4 linked regions of the Homo sapiens genome follow. The protein of the gene in region 1 purifies or fractionates together with the protein of each later gene. This does not show direct contact. Each region holds a gene or a part of one and is shown on either strand. Other genes may lie near its edges.

Evidence for each region.
Region 2: the proteins of PIGN (region 1) and SURF4 purify together in Homo sapiens (affinity purification with mass spectrometry; one large-scale study listed by BioGRID and IntAct). This does not show direct contact.
Region 3: the proteins of PIGN (region 1) and LMBRD2 purify together in Homo sapiens (affinity purification with mass spectrometry; one large-scale study listed by BioGRID and IntAct). This does not show direct contact.
Region 4: the proteins of PIGN (region 1) and PTDSS2 purify together in Homo sapiens (affinity purification with mass spectrometry; one large-scale study listed by BioGRID and IntAct). This does not show direct contact.

The regions. Positions count from the first base shown.
Region 1 is NC_000018.10:62,040,664-62,044,056, forward strand, and holds the end of PIGN (GPI ethanolamine phosphate transferase 1), read right to left. Parts: 3' UTR 501-3,393; downstream 1-500.
Region 2 is NC_000009.12:133,369,561-133,373,060, reverse strand, and holds part of SURF4 (surfeit locus protein 4), read left to right. Parts: exon of another isoform or gene 1-2,139; coding exon of another isoform or gene 2,140-2,185; intron 2,186-3,500. UniProt on the Homo sapiens protein: Endoplasmic reticulum cargo receptor that mediates the export of lipoproteins by recruiting cargos into COPII vesicles to facilitate their secretion.
Region 3 is NC_000005.10:36,141,888-36,145,387, forward strand, and holds part of LMBRD2 (G-protein coupled receptor-associated protein LMBRD2), read right to left. Parts: intron 1,520-3,500; 5' UTR 1,463-1,519; coding exon 1,289-1,462; intron 713-1,288; coding exon 615-712; intron 1-614. UniProt on the Homo sapiens protein: Recruited to ligand-activated beta-2 adrenergic receptor/ADRB2, it negatively regulates the adrenergic receptor signaling pathway. May also regulate other G-protein coupled receptors including type-1 angiotensin II receptor/AGTR1.
Region 4 is NC_000011.10:488,279-491,899, reverse strand, and holds the end of PTDSS2 (phosphatidylserine synthase 2), read right to left. Parts: coding exon 3,588-3,621; intron 3,372-3,587; coding exon 3,253-3,371; intron 2,501-3,252; coding exon 2,386-2,500; intron 2,313-2,385; coding exon 2,167-2,312; intron 2,018-2,166; coding exon 1,832-2,017; intron 1,481-1,831; coding exon 1,318-1,480; 3' UTR 501-1,317; downstream 1-500. UniProt on the Homo sapiens protein: Catalyzes a base-exchange reaction in which the polar head group of phosphatidylethanolamine (PE) or phosphatidylcholine (PC) is replaced by L-serine. Catalyzes the conversion of phosphatatidylethanolamine and does not act on phosphatidylcholine.

The DNA.
Region 1 (3,393 bases):
TGTATCAGGCAAATCAGGATTTAATTGTATGGTTTCTAACTTTAAGAATATTACTTCTCATCAGCAAGGAGAGGAGCTTTTAAAATGTTGACAGACGATTTCTAGAATTTCAAGTAATACAGGGATATTCGAGGTAACAGTTTATGTCTGTAAGATTGACAATTACCTGTGTTGGTCCCTTCGTTAATCACATTAGTCAAATTCACTGAACATTATCTGCTTAAAGTAAAAACAACTTTAAAAAATTCATGGAATCACTGATGTTTGATGCAATTGGTATTTGATACCAGTCAAGCTAATTAAATTCTTCTGTAAAAAGAATTTATCTTTTCATGAGTTTACCCAAGAGTAATAATAATTTTAGATTTTAGCCCTTTGAGGCCAATTAAAGGAAATTTTGATAACTGATGTTTTCTTTTCATAGTTTTTTTAAATAACAAAGCATTATAAAAATTTAACTACTAATCACTTTCTACACTGTCAAATCATAAGAAAACAAGTTGAAATTTGGTGCAAATTTATTTTTCAGGTAAAAGATATAAAACATAAGGTATGAAGGCTTAGTCTATACTCTAGCAGGGCTAGACAATGAGCCATGATGAACCGAATGCAATCTGGTACCACTGGCCTTTCCCACATGAAAGACTAAATGATGACAGGTGTAATATATACAGAGGCAGGAAAAATTGCAGGAAATTGTAAAGTTTTCTCACATTAAGGGTTAAAGTAAAAATGGTATTCCAGTTCTCAGGGAAAAAAATTCAATCAACATACAACACCCTATTTTCAAAACTATGACAAATTAAGGTTTTAGTGCAAAATTATATGGAGACATTTCTTTTTGAGGCAGAGTCTCACTTTGTCGCCCAGAGTGGCACCATCTCGGCTCATTGCAAATTCCACCTCCCAGGTTCAAGCAATTCTCATGCCTCAGGCTCCTGAGTAGCAAGGATTACAGGAGCCTACCACCCCGCCGGGTGTGTGTGTGTGTGTGTGTGTGTGTGTGTGTGTGTGTGTGTGTGTGTGTGTGTGTGTGTGTGTGTTTAGTAGAGATGGGGTTTTGCCATCTTGGCCAGACTGGTCTCGAACTCCTGACCTCAAGTGATCCACCCACCTCGGCCTCCCAAAGTGCTGGAATTACAGGGGTGAGCCACCAAGCCCGGCTTTGGAAACATTTCTTATGTTTACCAATCAGGAAGAAAACTCTAAGACAGGGTCTGCTGTCAAGCTAGTGGAAACTTTTGGCATAATGCTATCTTCCTCCCTTCACAACGTACATCACAAGTTAAATTCCCTTAGAACTAATGTAAATATACCTATTTAAGGTGGTTTGACTAGATGTTTCTCAAATATATTTAATTAAGAAACTCTTTTCAGCTGGGTGAGGCAGCTCACGCCTGTAATCCCAGCACTTTGGGAGGCCGAGGCGGGTGAACTGCTTGAGGTCAGGAGTTCAAGATGAGCCTGACAAACATGGTGAAACCTTGTCAGTACTAAAAATATGAAAATTAGCCAGACGTGGTGGTGGGCACCTGTAATCCCAGCTACTCAGGAGGCTGAGGCAGAAGAATCGCTTGAACCAGGGAGGCGGAGCTTGCAGTGAGCTGACATTGCGCCACTGCATTCCAGCCTTGGCGAGAGAGCCAGAGTCTGTCTTGAAAAAAAAAGAAAGAAAGAAAAAAGAAACTATTTTTATTATGACATTTATTTGTATTACAAGGAACCAATGTTCTAAGGGACAATCTCTGATAAATGCTGCTGTGTGGCAAATAAATGCTGCAGTTCTGAAGGTAGAAAGTTGAGCAGTAACTGTAACCCGTTTTAAGTGTACCCAAGGAAATGAATAAGAGACACATCTCAAAGGTTCTTTTTGTTTCTTTATAGAATGAATATTAAGTACTTTTCATGAGTTTACCCAAGAGTAATAATAATTCTAGATTTTAGCCCTGTGAGGCCAATTAAAGATAATTTTGATTATTAATGTTTCCTTCTCATTTTTTTTTTAAATAACAAAGCATCATAAAGAAATCCCAGTCAAAAAAAAATGCTGCTGCCTGGAAAACATAGTGAAACCCTGTCTCCATCAAAAAATATTTTAAAATTAGCTAGGTGTGGGGGCATGTGCCTGTAGTCTCAGCTACTCAGGAGGCTGAGGTGGCAGGATCACTTGAGCCCAGGAGGCAGAGGTTGCAGTGAGCTGAGATGGTGCCACTGCATTCTAGCCTGAACAAGAGTGAGACCCTGTCTCAAAACAAAAACGAAAAAAAAAAAAACAAAAAACCATGCTTATACAGAAATGGGAAAATGCTACAAAGATATTGCCATAGTACTGAAAGCACACAGCATAACAATCATTAATGCTTTGAAGCATTTTAAAAACAGTAAGGGGAATGTCAACATAAAAAAGAACAACTACGAAAAGGTGAGAAATGATCAAGTTATCTCTGGTCTCTTAAAAGAAGGAGTTCTCAGAACTGGTCTGAAGGGGGTCTTCTCCAAATGACAGAGTTGATTAGCTCCATTCTCTTCAGCCCCCTGACATGATGGCATCTAGTGTGAATATGGGAGCTCACCAGGTTCTCCCAAGGACAGGGTGGCCCTGCAACAGCTACGCCTGTCCTAGAGACCATACCCACGCAATCTCCTTCATTCCCTCTAGGCCAGCTTCATCAGAAATCATGTTTTTAATGGCACAGTTATATGTCAAAAAGGAGGAGAAAAGGAGCCCCTAGTCCACCAAAACAAGTGTAAAAAGGTCGCAGGAGGGGAGGAGGATTGACACTGATGTTCTTAATATCTGAGTTGGCTGAAATTTGTAATAAGTTTTTCATGAGAAACCATATTATAATGGATGAAGAGCTTTTCTAATTCAGCTCTATCATTAATAAATAATTATAAAGACATTACTATGAAAATATACAATCATTTATAACATTATTTTCCTAAAAAATAAAAAAGCATTTTGTATTCTAAATACTGTACACTAAGTATAATAATTAACATATTGGAAAATGACAGACAAGCTGCAGCGGTTTCCTAAAGCCTTAGGATTCCCTCTAAGGTTTATTCATGGGCCCTCTAAGATGATAGCATGGCCTTTTTTTGGTTCAATATTTTCACAACTTGTTCTGCCTATTTTAATTCTTATAACAATTCCTAATTTAAACATTGTTAATCAGCAAATGTCCTAAGTCTTGATTCAGAAATCTATGGCATAGGTAGAATGAAAAAATAAATACCTTAAATAGAAATACTTTTTCCCTAACTCGTTTCTTTTTTCTGTTTTGCAACATAAAAATATACATTTCAAAACATTTAAAGATATCTGGGAAACTGCAACAGAAAAGGCTTGTTCCCATGTGAGTCTGAAGGGGCCAGTTACGGTGCAGCAAG
Region 2 (3,500 bases), on another chromosome or scaffold:
ACCCAAGTGGGTTAGGACCATATCTGTAAGGCACCATATCTGTAAGGCAGCGCAGGCTGCCGCCGTCAGATGATCTCCTTAAGAGTCCGTCTAGGTGGTGGCAGAGCATGGCTGTGGGAGCTTCCATGCCCTTTTGTGGGCAGCTTGGGAGGGCAGCTACTTGTACTCGCCCAAACCCCAATCAGACAGATGCAGGCAAGTAAACAGGGTTCGAAGTCAAAATATGGCTTCTTGTGGACAGAATCTGACCAAGCCCAGGTGGGGCTTTGTTTCTCTTTATTCACATAGTACTTAAAGCTGCCAGACCAGGCTTTTACATGAAAATGACCTAATTTGAAGCCGATAGAGGATTACCATGGAAGTCACTGATCAGATAAAGTGACACATCCATTTTTTCACATCTTCAGAAAACAAGAGCAAAACTGAAGTGACAAGATTTGACCAGAAAGTGTGGGCTGCTGAAAGCAAGACCTAAGTAAGCTTAGTTTCCCAGGCCCAGTGTCTTCCAGTATTATGACAATGACATTAAGTCTTTCACTGGGCCGGGTCCATGATAGACATTCCTTTTGTGAACTTCTTGACTGTAGGAGGTTGGCCAGAGCGTCACCATCTTCAGATGGGCAGAGGGAGGTTGGCTGGCCGCACTGGCTTGTGGTGGCCTGGAGACTGAGTCCGCATCCTGTTACCCCAAAGGCTGGGTTCCTCACTGCTTGGTTGACTGATCTTTCCTTCTGGCCTGCAGAGGCTGGTCCACGGGGACGAGCAGTCTGGTTAGTTTCTGCTGGCAGGCTCCCCACAGTTGCATCTCTTGTCTCTCTGCCTCTGGCATCAAGCTGCTTGCTCTGGCAGCCAGGGACAGTGTCCTCTTGCTCCCAGGAGCCATGCTCTGTAGAAACTGCTGAGACGTGCTCTATGCAGGAGCTTGGCATTTGGAAGCCATGGGAAGGGTCCAGAAACTAATGAACTCAGCAATCCAAACTAATGTCCATGCCTGCAGCTGCTCCTCATTGCCTATTAGACACTCTGTAAAATGTAGCTTCTAAGCAGTTTATACCCATAAACAGCAATATTAGCACTTAATGGGTTCTGCCTGGTGGCTCATCACCAAGGTGACAGAAAAGCTGCATGGGGCCTTCCTCTCCAGTGTGACCTTTGGTGTTTTTAACCTGTCCTCAAGAGTGGCAGAGCTAGTCCTGGGCCCTAGGAGCTGGCCTCGGCCCTAGTTGAAGTGCTGGGGAAGCAAGGATAGGCCTGAGGACCCCTGAACTTGCAGGTGGCACAGGCACTGTGAGGGTCCCGATGAACACCATGCTGGTGACTGGTGTGGCAAAGTCCTGGTGACAGTGGCAGGCTCTGTCATACCCTGCCCTATATCATGAAGGAGTGGGGAGAGAAGGCAAAGAGGAGCTGACTCACTTTTCTTTGTGTGATGATCTTAACGGGAGGTTAAAACTCACTCTTCAGGGGAGTGCGGGCGAGGAGCAGAGGAGGTTGTGGTTAGCGGGGCTCCTCCCAGAACATGGGGCCCAGTCGTTCTCAGTTACGTCTTTCCTATAGTTGGGATTTTGATCACACAGTTTTTTAGTAAAGCCAGGCCATCATCTCCCACATTGGGCTGGCGACATCCTTTCTGGCCCTGCAGGGTGCAGTGTGAACCTATAGAGCAGCATGGGAGCGGGGCTCGGGGAAGTTCTGGAGCTGCAGTGAGCCAGTGAGCTCGAGCCAGCTCTGACAGGCTGATGTGAGGGAAGCCGCTGGGCCGCAGGTGCTTGTTTCTAGGATGTGTGGGACCTGAGTTGGGCTTTGAACAAGGCAGCCCCAGTCCTTGGTGATCAAGGAAATCTGACCTGCCTTTTTCGTCGATGTTCACATTCACCACGAATTTGCAAGCTGCTTTCCTCAATTTCTTTCTGTCCTGAGTGTGAAGAGAAAGTGGAGTTTTCTGTGTGGCGTGGGAGCTGCAGGTGGCTGTGACAGTGATCACTGGATGCCCAGGAAGTCATCTCAGGGTGGATATAATTAATTACGTTTCTAAAATCCCCTTCAGTCGTCTAAAATAACCACCCCTTTGAGAGAAATATCAGTCTTCCTGTTAAGCCCCTCAGATGCTGTCACTGCTTATGAACCATATCCTGCTTGATGGCGCGGTTCTCGGAGAGACTTAATGAGAAGCTTGGCCACAGAGGTGAGCTAACTGTCATCTTCTTCCTGCAGCCTGCCAGGTCAACAGCCACCTCTGGCTCTGCTGTCGCAGTTCTCTAATGGGGGGGAGGGGGACTGTCACAAGTTTTATGTGCTCGCCGTGTTTACACAGGTCACCTGTGTGCTGGCTACCAGCAATGGCCTTAGTGCCTGCAGTGCGGCTGCTCTTGTCTGTCCTGGGGTGCTGTGTGTCCTGCCTGTGTTGAGGGCTCTTCTCTGCTGTGCTGAGGGGACACTGGCTCTGGGACGTGTTCTAGAGTGGCATGACATGGTTCCAGTGGCCAAGTTGAAGTAGTTGTGACCAACATGCATGTAGGAAATAAGGTTAATGTTGGGCCTTGTCTTTAAACGTGGCTTTTTCAGTGTTCAGTCCAAACAGATGCTCATTAAATGGTGGCCAGTTTAGAGGAGACTGCATCAGCCTGACTTCAGCCTTCAGTGTGGACCAGGCTTGCCTTTGAAAACCAGGACAGCCAAGCAGTAGGTGTGCTCAGTTCAGAAGGCAGTACCTAGATTTTTGCATATTTTTCCCCAAAGCCAAGAGCTGTGTCTGTTTCGTCACCATGTTTGCGCAGGGAAGGAGGTGTGAATTGCCTGTCCCACCTTCTCTCTCTTTTTTGCTCTTTAATCCTCTTGACCCAGACACTCAAATTAAGAGTCGCAGACTCATTCAAAGAGACTTTTAAACACTGCCTCAATCTCGTGGGCTGTGCACGTAGATGAGCATGTTAAATGCAGGTCCTGCAACTGGGGGAGGCTTAGACCGCAGCCCATGGCTGGGCTGGTTTGCTCATCTCAGGCCAGTGAGTGGCTCACAGCTCTCATTTTAGAAGCAAGTCAGAACACCTCTGGTGTCTGTCTTGGGTATGGATTGCAGTCTACCTCTCTGCTGCTGTTGGGGTCCACGCCCCACACCCACACCCTGCCCTGGGAGTCCCACCACGGCTCCGTCTCATCTCAGAGGTCTGGACAGCCTCCTGTTGAGCTCTTCCTTCCCAGTGGTTGCTTTTCCCCAGGTTCAGATGAGATAAAGGCTTGTGTCCTTGCTGGGGCTTCCCAGCTGGGCCACGATGTGAGGCCATTCCTTGAGAGCAGTGGCACATCGTGTGCCACGGTGGTGTGCTTTCTCTCTTCCATGGAATATGGGTGATTACACTGTTGCTGGGCATTTAGAGAGCAACGGGGCCATGAGGCAGAACCTGGGGAGGGTGTGTGGCGTCACCTTTCCCACCACCCAGTGTGATGCAGGTTGCGTCACACTGTGCACATGGGCATCTTGTGCTGGTTCTCTGCATTGG
Region 3 (3,500 bases), on another chromosome or scaffold:
TAAATTTACCTTTTCTGAAGTTAGATTTTTTAAAAATATGCATAAAGAAGCATGCAAATACTACTGAAAGCATTCATAAAGGCTATAGTCAACATATATAAGCTTTTTACTTAAAAGTTCGATATGAATTCAATATAATCTTTGGACAATTTGAACTTTATTAATTTTTTATGTAAATCTATAATGCTTTTGAAGGATGTGCAATATGAAAGGAATACCATAAGTTCAGAAATACTTGTCTTTATTATAACCTTGTAAATTAGGCAAAAGTGAAAATACATCCCACGTTTTTAAATCTGAGATAGGCTGAGAGGAAAAACAGGTTTTAGAAATTACATACTTGGTAAAGAAGAACCAGGACTAAAAAATCAGGACTTCTTCAAGTTTCTCACTACCGTCTACTGAAGGGCTTTGTGGACCAATAAATATTAAAAATTAGATTTAATTAGAATATGATGTAATGAAAAGTCTACTAGGAAAGAATAGAGGTGGGGAGAATTAGTAGAGAATGAGGATAACTTACATAAATATAAAGTCTGGATGGTAAAAACTTTCAATTTTTAAACAATGTGTCCCCTACAATGTTTATATATTTTTTTTAAAAAAGGAAATACCTTGGAACAGGGTTAGCAGTTGCGTACAATCCTGTAATGTTGCTATTCTCAGGAGGGCTTGAATTTGCAGCAGCATGCTTGCACCGGTTGTATATTGTCTAAAGCAACGAATGTATGGTTTAAAAATGAGAATCAAAAGGTTACCAAGTACTTAAAGGACATCAGAGTTTATAAATCTATCTATCTAAACTTACCTTCTTGGCTATGCTTTATTCTTTTTTTTTTTTTTTTCTTTTTGTGTGAGACAGAGTCTCACTCTGTCGCCCAGGCTGGAGTGCAGTGGCGCGATCTCGGCTTACTGCAAGCTCCGCCTCCCGGATTCACGCCATTCTCCTGCCTCAGCCTCCCGAGTAGCTGGGACTACAGGCGTCCGCCACCACGTCCGGCTATTTTTTTTGTATTTTTAGTAGAGACGGTGTTTCACCGTGTTAGCCAGGATAGTCTCGATCTCCTGACCTTGTGATCCGCCAGTCTGGGCCTCCCAAAGTGCTAAAATTACAGGCGTGAGCCACCACGCCCGGCCCTTGGCTATGCTTTTTAATGATCAAATGGCCATATAATCTTTTAATTCAAAACTGACATAACTTAGCTGTCTTAAGAAATAACATTATTTCCAACATGCTGTATGATTAAAATTTGTCTTTTAAATTGTGAAAATAAATTTCACTCCTTACCGTACTAACATCCAGAGGCAGTATGAAGACAATAAGAAAGCAGAGATACCAAGCAAGCAGTGTTCCAATAATCACAAGTCTATGCTGTTTCTTAAAGTCTCCATATCGATGAAGCAGAAATAATGCCAGAAAAAAGACAAAAACAATCTCAAGTCCCAAAGCTGCACCACTCATTATTGAATATTTCACTCTGACTAACCAAAGTTATTCATGTACAGGTCTGGACCATATCTATAAAGTAAAAAGAAGGTTAAAATGCATCATTAACACAGGAAATGACATTTGGAAATTTCATCTGAATATTTATTAGTACATTAATACATTAATCAACTCTTTGGAGAAATGTCATGCTTCACATTGGACTATGAATAAGATTAAAAGGGTAATTCCTATCCTCAAGTACTTATATTTTATTTTTAAAGCACACTTAAAAAATTTCACGTACCTTGTATTTTCAAAAACTTAACAAAAATTATTAGTTCTTACAATATTACAAATTAAGAAGTTCTTATTTTAGATGTGAACAGTTTTAATACAGTGTCATCTGGAGTTTGTTTCTTAATATTATAAGTCCTAACAGAATAGTTTATGCAAATAAGCTGTTAACTAAATCCTAGGAAATTAGATACTTAGTAAAATACATTTTACTAAGATTATTCATCCTCTATAATTTAAGATTTTCTAAAAGAGAGGAAGGAAAAAACGGAAAGAGACCATTTAAAAGTAACCTTTTGTTTTTTGAAATAGTATTTTTCTTTTGTGTTAATTTCACCTAACAACTCAACTTTCATGAAATTCTTACTCACTGCTTTACAAAATATATTTATCACTTCCATTTATCTACATAAATCTTTAAACTTACTTTGATAAATTCTCATTTTTAATTTTTCTACTATTTTATATGCAGAAAATTTATCAATGACTATTAAAGTCATACATTTGAAAACATTCTTAATTTTATGATACAGTCATCAGCGAATAGTTTACTTGATATCTCTCTACTCAAAAAAGTTAGAGTATAGAGATTTAAAGTCTCTATTTTAAAATTGAAAAATTTGATATCTCTCTATACTTAAAAAAATTTACTAATCAAAGGCAATATGAACTTTTTCTCCTTTGTAAAATCAATGTTAGACTTTTGTTTATCTACATACTACAGTATTTCAAGGAATTGATTAATATCCTAACACAGAGAATCAAGAGTGTGATCAACCCAACAAAATAAAATAAGGGGCAGTGGCTCACACCTGTAATCCTAGCACTTCGGGAGGCTAAGGCAGGCGGATCACCTGAGGTCAGGAGTTCATGACCAGCCTGGGCCAACATGGTGAAACACCATCTCTACTAAAAATACAAAAATTAGCCAGGTGTGGTAGCGGGTGCCTGTAATCACAGCTACTCAGTAGGCTGAGGCAGGAGAATCGCTTGAACCTGGAAGGCAGAGGTTGCAGTAAGCCGATATCGTGCCATTACACTGAAGCCTGGGCAACAAGAGCAAAATTCTGTCTCAAAATAAATAAATAAATAACAAAATAAGGGAGAACCAATGAAATACTTCAAATCAACAAACATCTTTAACTAAAACTATTTAGAATAATAGAAAAGACAATTTAAGTACTTTAAATGGTTAAATTTAAATTTATATACAAAATACTCCTACATGAACTATCACATAGAAAAATCACATTTAATGAACAATTTTCTTCACTATTTTTTATATTGGTAAACAGTTTCCATTTCAACTGTCAATATTTTCATTTTTCTTAATTATCTAAAATTGAACTTCTTTCATCAATCTCTACCCTCTTATCCTGCTATATTTTCCTTCAATGCATTTATTCATCTGATATAATACACATTCTTTATATTTATTGTCTCTCCACACCTCTCCCCTTACCCCAGAGACTCTATGAGAGCAGAGACTTGACTATTTTATTCCATACTATATTCCAGTTGTCTGATGTAGTTAGTACCTGGCATACAGTAGTATCAAGAAATATTTGTTGAAATAATAAAAAATACTGTGTAGTTTAGTACATACACTATTTTTCTATTACTGACGACTTCAAAGGCAATGTAAAACTCGTGTAATGGTAAACTGATTTAACAAATACTTATTACAACTCAAAAGGCTTAAAACTCTGAACATTACCAAATACTACTCAAATTTTCAAATTTCATATTCTATGAAACAACTTATACCACAACAAAG
Region 4 (3,621 bases), on another chromosome or scaffold:
GCACCCCAGGAATCCTGTGTCCACTGCCCAGTGTCTGCCAGCCTGGGACAAACACAGCACCCCAGGAATCCTGTGTCCACTGCCCAGTGTCTGCCAGCCTGGGACAAACACAGCACCCCAGGAATCCTGTGTCCACTGCCCAGTGTCTGCCAGCCTGGGACAAACACAGCACCCCAGGAATCCTGTGTCCACTGCCCAGTGTCTGCCAGCCTGGGACAAACACAGTACCCCAGGAATCCTGTGTCCACTGCCCAGTGGCCGCCAGCCCTTGGACAAGCGCAGCAGAGGGTGGGTGCCACCTGGACCCTCCTGGAGAATGGGAGAGGGGCTGCATCTGGCACCTGCTCTCTCTGGGGGGTGGGGCGGGGCAGGCGCCAAGTCTTTGCTCAGGTGCAGAGGCTGAGTGCCTCCTGTCCTCTGTGTGGTTTTCCCCAAGTGGGCACTGGGCATGAGGGCAGGCTGGAGGGCTGCACTGGACCCCAAAGCAGGACACGGGGAGCTGGGGGGAGGGCTGGAAGCCTCAGACGTTCGTTGTCACTTTATTGGTTCTCTTTGCTCGTGAAGATGACCCTCACCTTGGAGCCACGGAGGCAGCATGACCCCAGCACCCGGGTTCCAGGCCCCCTTGAGGGGCAGCTCAGTGATCTCTGACCCCATCATCCACGTGTCCTCCGGGGTGGTCTGTGTGAAAGGAAGGCTCGGAGGAGGTGGCTCAGCATCGCTGCCTGGATCCGCTGCCTCTCAGCCACGGAGTGTTTGTGGACGAGCGCCCACACGAGCTGCGGGGGAAGTGGATGTGGAGCCAGTGTAGACGCCTCCAGGCCTCAGCGCACCCAGGGCCCACGGAGTGCAGAAAGGGTACCGAGATGTCCCTGCCTGGACCACACCATGGCTGGGTGACAGGGAGCTTGGTGGGCCAGAGGCCACGGGGCTGACCAGGCAGAAAGGGGAGGGAGGACCCTGGTTCCTGAGGGACACACTGCCCCAGAGCATGCCCTTGCCACGCCAGCCAGCTCCCAGCTCTGGAGAAGCCTCGGAGCCCAGAGCACACGTGCACACCACAGGCGGCCACGCATGTGTACACACGCGCGTACACACGCGTACACACACGCATACACACGTACACACGTGTACACATGGAGATGAGGCTGTGCTGGGGCCTCCTCCACCCCTCGCCTTCAGCCTCGCCAGGTGCACAGGAGAAAAGCAAAAAACCTTGAGGGCAAGGCCGGGCACGTGGCTCCTGGTGGGACTCACACAGGAGGAGGCCACGGAGGCCTGGGCTCTGGGAGGCTCACGAGGCAGCCACGGCCCAGGTCAGTTTGGAGTTGGTGCTCCCTCGCCCTCGGCCACCCCAGGCCCCAGCAGGTCTTCGTCCAGCCCCAGTGGGTGCTGGTCCCCGTTGCCGACGGTGCTGCCCTGGTCATCCTTGTTCTGCCACTTCTGCCACCGGGTCTCCTTGTACCTCAATGTGATGTCCCTGGGGAGCGGGATGCAGCGTCACCACCTGCCCCCACACCAGCCCCACTGCAGGCCCCATGGACAGCTGGCACCTAGTCCCTGTGGAGGTCCGGAATGGACTGGGTGGGTGCCGGGTACCCTGGCCCTGGGACGGCAGCCGTGGCAGACTGGAGCCCTGAGGAGCCTGGATCTGTCAGTGCAGAGCGAAGGCCCCGAGGGCTGGGTCAGGAAAGGCGCCTCCCGCAGAGGCGGCCAGAGGGTTGAAGCAGGGACAGTGAGACACCAACGACACCAAACTCCCACAGTGCCTGTGCCAAGGGACCCGGACAGCGGCCCTCCTTCAGAACATACGCGCCCTGCCCTGACTCACCGCAGGAAGAAGCGCCAGACGGTCCAGGTGAGCGCCAGGACGGAGCCGAGGGTCCAGCACTGGGAGATGTAGAAGGGCAGGGACAGGGTGAGCGTGTGGGGGTCGTACTTCACCACGATGAGCAGCTCCGTGGCCGTGATGGCCGCCACCAGCCAGGCCTGCGGGCCCAGCTTCTTGTGGGGCTTCCTGCAGGGGCAGCAGGGGGTTCAGCGTCCCGGGCCCCGCAGGGTCCTCCAGGCGGACTTGCCCAGGCTCCGGCCTCCCAGGCTCTGCTCCCCAGCCCTCCGGCCCCTGCCCCCCGGGGGTGTCTCCACCCGGACTGCCGCAGCCCTCACGGGTCATCCATGAAGTCGTAGATCTCACGCATGGCCACGCCACCCACGTTCACGAAGAAGACGAGCCGCAGGAGGACCAGGTAGTGCTCCGGGGGCATCCACAGCACAAACTTCAGGTAGAACGTGTTCAGTTCTGCCAACAGGAACTAGGGGAGGAGAGGGTGAGCACCAGCTCTGGCCCCCCGCCCGCCGCGCCGTCGCGAGGCAGCCCGGCCTTACCACCAGGATGATGCCGCACACGGCCAGCCAGCGACGCAGGCTGGAGGCCGGCTTCCACTCGAAGCGAACCCAGCTGTACGGCGTGAACTGGAAGGCGATCCTCTTCATCTTGCCCCTGGGAACCACAGAGCCGGCAGCCTGAGGAAGGCAGCCCACCGAACCCTGCCCTGTGCCATCGGGCAACAGACTGTTCCTGGTCACCCGGCCCCGCCCTGTGCCATCGGACGAGCTCTGCTCTTGGTCACCCCGCCCCGCCCTGTGCCATCGGGCCACAGACTCTGTTCCTGGTTACCCAGCTGCTGCCCGGCTGTTCTCCGAGGTCTGGCCACCCAGCTACAAGCCCTGCTTCTCCACGGCCCTCTGCTGTTCAGTCTCTTCCAGCTTGAGCAGTGGCTGCAGCGCCTCAGAGGGCGCTCCACGGTGCCGTGAGCTAGCCATGTCTGCAGAGCCAGGCAGAGCCGGGGCACCCACAGGCAGGAGGGGAGACCCCCGTCCCCCAGGCCTTTCCTTAGACTTCTGTTTCTTTTTTAAATTCCAAAGTCATAATGACAAAGTACCTGCAACTATTTCATAACCAAAGCAACCAAGGGAGGGAGAAGCACGGAATGATCCCACAGCCCCTGCGCCAGGCCGGCCAGGGATTGAGGAGGGAGGTACGTGGGTCAGACGCCATGGCCACTGTGAGGGGCGGCCGGGCTTGAGTGACACCAGGTCAGAGGGAGGTTCCAGGAGGCAAAGCCCCACGGTCACCCCTCCTGAGCCGCACACTGGACGGGCCTGGTGCTCGGGGTCTGCTGGAGCACGGACGCTGAGGCTGCCTCCAGGTAACCCCCACCCGGCCCTGCCCTCGCAGCCCCCACGACGTACTTGTAGGTCGGAATGTTCCAGAGGCCCTGCCACTTGTACGTCTTCAGGGACAGCCACTCAAGGGTCTTCATGCCGCAGTAGATGCCCAGCCCGTTGCAGACGAGCACGTCCATGATCCACTGCAGGGAGGGGCCAGCACTCGTTGCAGGGGTGAGGGGTAACGAGCCCCCCGAGGAGGACCCCGGAAGAGCACAGGGGAACCGAGAATGCCCCTCAGCCTGCACCCACTGCCCCCCGGGGAGAATGAGGGGGTCCAGGGGCCGCGCTGGGCACAGGGGTTCCGAGAATGCCCCTCAGCCTGCACCGACTGCCCCGGGGGCTGTGCTGGCACCTACGTGATCCCACCAGCACTCGCTGAAGTTGGGCAGC